Homo sapiens: one gene and its partner. The protein of the gene in region 1 interacts with the protein of each later gene in a pairwise test. Each region holds a gene or a part of one and is shown in the gene's direction. Other genes may lie near its edges.

The links.
Region 2: the proteins of MELTF (region 1) and MESD interact in binary tests that used the Homo sapiens proteins (3 or more experiments, as listed by UniProt).

What each region holds. Positions count from the first base shown.
Region 1 is NC_000003.12:197,005,794-197,009,384, reverse strand, and holds part of MELTF (melanotransferrin isoform 1 preproprotein), read left to right. Parts: intron 1-419; coding exon 420-576; intron 577-660; coding exon 661-728; intron 729-2,648; coding exon 2,649-2,836; intron 2,837-3,591. UniProt on the Homo sapiens protein: Involved in iron cellular uptake. Seems to be internalized and then recycled back to the cell membrane. Binds a single atom of iron per subunit. Could also bind zinc.
Region 2 is NC_000015.10:80,975,218-80,977,592, reverse strand, and holds the end of MESD (LRP chaperone MESD precursor), read left to right. Parts: 3' UTR 1-1,841; downstream 1,842-2,375. UniProt on the Homo sapiens protein: Chaperone specifically assisting the folding of beta-propeller/EGF modules within the family of low-density lipoprotein receptors (LDLRs).

The sequences.
Region 1 (3,591 bases):
AGGCCACACACCTCTGTCCTGGCTGTTAACTCAGAAAACATACAAGCACTTTTTTTTCTAACCACTGACACAAGCACACAGAGGGCACTAGGGTTGGCAGCTCCCACTCCCAGACAGCTGGACACCTGCTCTGATTGGAACAAAATAGTGAGGTAGTGAGATCCCTGTCCCTGAGGGAGTTCAAGTGAAGGCTGGGTGATGTTTGGTGATGGAGATGCTGTATCTAGACAACCTCTGCATTCCCCGCACTGAGATCCTCCAGGAGACACTCCACTCAGAGCTGAGGGGAGCGGAGCAGACAGGTGGCCTTGCAGTGTAGGATCCGGGGGGTGGGCAGACCTGTGGGGGAGCGGCCCGCCCAGCTCCCTCCCACACTTTCCACTGCTGGCCCCTCATCATTGCCCTTCCCTCCACCCCAGCAGTGAGCGAGTTCTTCAATGCCAGCTGCGTGCCCGTGAACAACCCCAAGAACTACCCCTCCTCGCTGTGTGCACTGTGCGTGGGGGACGAGCAGGGCCGCAACAAGTGTGTGGGCAACAGCCAGGAGCGGTATTACGGCTACCGCGGCGCCTTCAGGTACCCGGGTGGCCTGGCAGTCTGGGGCTGTGTGCAGAGGCTGGGACCCTCCTGCCGACGCCTGCCCTGCCCTCTGTGTGGCAGGTGCCTGGTGGAGAATGCGGGTGACGTTGCCTTCGTCAGGCACACAACCGTCTTTGACAACACAAACGGTAGGTGGGGGCAAGAGCAGGGCCAAAGGTAGGTCGGGGGGACTGTTCCCCATCTTCAGCACCATCCAGACACCATGCTGGGCTGGGGCCAAGCAGCAGCTCAGAGAGGCTGAGTCTAGAAGGCTGTGCCCCCTGGGAAGCTGGGAGCCCCAAGGGTCACAGGGTAAGAACAGACCTCAGACCACACATCCAGGGGTGCTGGATACATGACGGTTTTTACTGGCCTGGAATTCAAGTCCCTAATCCACCGAAACGGTAGAAACTCAATCCCAGTCAATCTGGAAAGACCCCCTTCTGGGAGTATTGATGTAGTGCCAAGGTGTGAGGTGGGAGTGGCATGAGCCTCTCCACAGGGTCATGAGTTCAATCAGTATCTGGTCTGTGTTCCTGAGCAGGTCACTGCCTCATGCAAGGAAATCTCTCTGCAGCCCCCAAGCCACACCGAGGCAGGGCACGCCCAACATACCACACAGGGGGTTTTCTTCCTGGAGTCACCTTCCTGGGCTCCGCCTGGGACAAAGAGCTCAGGAACGCTCTGCTCCGGGACCCCAGTACATACATGGTCCTATCAGAGCACACGCTCCCCTGACTTATATCACTTCCCCTTCTTCTTGTTCTCCGTGAAGGAATCTGTGTCCGTTTTGAAGACTAGAGGCTGTTTTCCTCCAACACCAAAGGCTTGTACTGTCTGCATACCCTGCCTACACCCCAGGCTTTGAAACCCCAAATGCTGGAGGCCCAGTCTTCTCCACTCGCTCCCAACATGTCTCCTCCTATAGACTTAGCCCAGAAAGGCACAACTGTGGCCCGGTGGGGAGGGGACTGGACAATGGGAAGCAAGACGTGCAGGGAAAAAAACGAAAACCTCAGTTAGTGTTTCAAAACTTGGATCTTGCCTCCTATGGGGGTCACCAAGGCGGTAGGACCATTTGCCCCAGCAGAGCTAGGGAGGGCTCCAGGCCCTGAACCCTTCCTGTTGCCACAGCCCAGCTCCCCCACCCAGCCTCCTACCAAGAACACCTGAAACCCTCCCCCAGGGAGGGGCTGTGTGCTCCTGCACGAGCCCAGCGGGCCTGCCTGGTCCCAGATCTGTGCATGGTGTCGTCTGGGATGGGGTCAGGGGAGGCGGGCAGGTGCTGGAGAGGCCTTGGGAGGTTCACTTGCAGTGAGTCACCCGCCTCCCAGGGCCACTCCTTTCCCTTTTATCTTTAGCTCTCCTCAAGGCCCACCTGGATTTCCTGGAAATGGGAGGAGGATGGATACTAAGTGAATGCACAGAGACATGAAAATGTGATTCCTGAGGGCAGCATTTTCTCAGGCAGCCCGAGACCGCCTGCTTTAGAATCAGTGGGATGCTGGTTTAACATGCAGATTCTTGAGCCTGATCTGAGACCTCCTGAATAAGATTCTTTGCAAGCAAGGGCCCTTGAAGCTGCCTTCTGCATCCACAAGTGATGCTATACCCTGTTCCATTTGAGAACTTCAGCCCTTAGGGACAATCACCCACCACCTTCAGGGAGCCACCCCACACTCAGGCTTGAGGATGTAACACATAGATGGGGTTCTCTGCCTGGGAGTGATTAACAGCCTCAGTTTCCTCACCTGTAAAATGGGGACAAAAACACCTACCCTGCGTTACTGTTGTGGGGATCAAGCAACGCGTGTAAAGTACTTGTCACATAGTAGGTACTCCCTACTCCCTGCTAATTAATGGCAGCTCCTGCTAATGGCATGAACACAGCTGGGTTCTTTCACCCCGGTAACACAGCAGAGCACGTGGAGAATGGAGAGGGTTGGGGAGCTGGCCAGATGTTGCCACCTCCCTGTGGTGAAGGCCTTGGGGTCCCAGGATAGCAGCTTCTCTTTACACTTCTCTCCACTCCCGGAACGTCCCCACACACACTGCTTTACCCCCCTCAGGCCACAATTCCGAGCCCTGGGCTGCTGAGCTCAGGTCAGAGGACTATGAACTGCTGTGCCCCAACGGGGCCCGAGCCGAGGTGTCCCAGTTTGCAGCCTGCAACCTGGCACAGATACCACCCCACGCCGTGATGGTCCGGCCCGACACCAACATCTTCACCGTGTATGGACTGCTGGACAAGGCCCAGGTGAGCCAGGGTGGGGCTACCTCATTGAGGGGTGTGCAGCAGAGGTAAGCTGAGCCCCTGGGAGGCCTCAGTCTACCTGGAGCAGACCTCTAGAGAAATTGAGGAAGCCCGGGGGAAATTCTGTGATTTTCACTTACGCAAGGACATCCCTCCAGAAACTGTCCCCTCTGCCTCCTGCATCGTTGATTTTCCCTTCTCAGTCGGACCATTTTCACCAACATGAAACATGCTGTGACTTCTGCCATCCTTAAAGAACAAACTAACCTCTTGGTCTCACATCCATCCTCTTGCAGCTGTAATCCTGCTCCCTTTTTTTCTTTTTTTTTTGAGACGGAGTCTTACTCTGTCGCCCCAGGCTGGAGTGCAGTGGCACTATCTCGGCTCACTGCAAGCTCCGCCTCCCGGGTTCACGCCATTCTCCCACCTCAGCCTCCTGAGTAGCTGGGACTACAGGCACCCGCCACCATGCCTGGCTAATTTTTTCTATTTTTTAGTAGAGAAGGGGTTTCACCGTGTTAGCCAGGATGGTCTCGATCTCCTGACCTCGTGATCCGCCCACCTCGGCCTCCCAAAGTGCTGGGATTACAGGCATGAGCCACTGTGCCCGGCCAATCCTGCTCCCTTTCGAAGCAAAACTCCTCCAAAGAGTGGTCTGCTCTGGAGTTAACAAGTCCTCTCCTCTGGCCTCTCTTAAGGATGGAGACTGAGTTAGCAAGTCCTCTCCTCTGGCCCCTCTTAAGGATGGAGACTACCCC
Region 2 (2,375 bases), on another chromosome or scaffold:
AGTATAAAGCAGCTGTTTTGATGAGATAATTGCTTTAATTAAGCAAAAGGTAGCAAAGCTTTCACTCCGCCCTGTACCTTCTGTTTCCACTTAGGAGCCTTCCCATGTCAGAATGTGCAGATCTGTCTCATTGTTTCCTGTGCAGTGTGCCCCCACTTCACCCAGTAGTTTCTGTGTGTCTGTTATGTACTAGGTACTACAAGGTGCCAGGACGGTGTAGATACAGCCTCTGCTATCGTAAAACTCAATGATTCGGTGGGGGAAGACAAATGTCAGTAATGTACAAAGTAAAATGGCAGCTGTTAGAAGTATGAAAGGGGCAGGGTAGGGGGAGGTAGAATCTTCCCTGACCAGGTTAAGAAAACCAGAGGCCTTCTCTGAGGGCAAGAGGAGGAGAGGAGAAATAGAGTAAGGCAGGCAGAGGAAACAGTCTGAGCTAAGACCCTGTGGCTAGAAGTGGCAGAGGGAGAGGCAGCAGGAAGGCCAGCGGGGAGGCTGGGGCCCAGTGCAGGCCCAGGTTGGAGGAGCGTAGCACATGGAGTTTGGTAGGAGTTTGGGACGCCCTGGTGGATCTTAATTGTGATGGGGTGGGTGTGAAAGGCAGTCCAGGTTGCACTGGTTGCACAGGAGAAGTGATCAGAAGAGGACCCCAGCAGGTGTGAGCCGTGAGCTGGGAGGTGCTTCAGTAGTGCAGGCCATAGCTGAAGGTGTCCTACATCAGCAGGGTGATGGTGAGGTTTGAACCACTGTTTCACTGCATAGTCCCTGCTGATGGACACTTGAGTGTTCAGATTTTTTGCTGGTATATTCAGTGCTGCAGTGGACATTTTCATACAAAATATTTCGGTACACTTTTGTTTATATCTGAAAGGTAAATTCCTAGCAGTAGAATTATTAGAGCAAACGGAATTTAACATTTTGGTGTGTATTGCCAAATTGCCCTCCCAAGTGGTTTAGTCAGCTTACCCTTGCCAACAATAGATCTATCCTTGCCAGCCTTGGGCATCACATTTACCAGTTTAATAGATTGTAAAACCATATCTTAATTGGCTACCCTGAAGCCACCATACTGGAGAGGCTGCGTACAGTGTTTCACGTAGAGAGAGGGATACCCAGGAGGCCCACCTGCTCCAACCCCAGCTGCATGAGTCTTCCCAGCCCAGGCACAGACATGTGGATAAGATTTAAACATTTCCAGCCCCAGCCTTCAAGCAATCCTAGTTGACACTGAGGGGAGCCAACATAAGCTGAGCTGAGAAACAGTCTGCCCAGTCTGCAGATTCATGAGCAAAAGAAATGTTGGGCTGGGTACAGTGGCTCACGCCTGTAATCCCAGTACTTTGGGAGGCCGAGGTGGGTGGATCAGTTGAGGTCAGGAGTTTGAGACCAGCCTGGCCAACATGGTGAAGCCCTGTCTCTACTAAAAATTAGCCGAGTGTGGTGGTGCGGGCCTGTAATCCCAGCTACTCAGGTGGCTGAGGCAGGAGAATGGCTTGAACCCGGGAGGCGGAGGTTGCAGTGAGCCAAGATCAGGCCACTGCACTCCAGCCTGGATGACGGGATGAGACTCTGTCTCAAAAAAACGAAACAAAAATTTTTTAAGAGAAATGTCATTTGTTTTTGTTTTTGAGACAGGGTCTCACTCTGTTGCCCTCACTAGAGTGCAGTAGGATCACGGCTCACTGAAGTCTCTACCTACCGGCTCAATTGATCTTCCCACCACAGCCTCCCAAATAGCTGGGAGAAATGTCCTGTTTTTAATGAATTTGTCTTCCTTTTTGTCTTGTTTGTTTTAATATCTAGTGATCTAATAAATTTGGATGATATCTTTTGACTATCAATTATGAAACCTGTATCAGATATACACATCTTTCCTTCTTCATCCTCAGGCTTTCTGGTTTTGATGGTGATACTGTGGCTTTTGTACTTCTGGTGGTTTCCCTTATACTGTTAAACCTCTTTTTTTTTTTTAAATTAAACCAACTTAGTATGCATTAACCACTGAACAAGGGAAAGGAACTCACAAACTTTTTCCTGTGTCCCTGATTATTGTTTAATAGTGTTTGTATACTGACAAGATACATAATATCCACCTTCTGCACCCACAGTGTCCGCCTTTATGCTTGGACAAGAGCATGCAGGGTAGGACATTTCTGAGCCTTGCTTTTTTCCCTGGAAGTTTTTTGTTTGTTTGTTTGTTTTTTAAGAGACAGGGTCTCTTGCTGTCTCACTCAGGCTAGAGTGCAGTGGTGTGTTCATAGCTCACTGCAGCCTCAAACTCCTGAGTTCAAGCCATCCTCTTGCCTCAGCCTCCCGAGTAGCTAGGACTACAAGCATGCACCACTATGCCTGGCTAGGTTTTTTTTTTTTTGTTT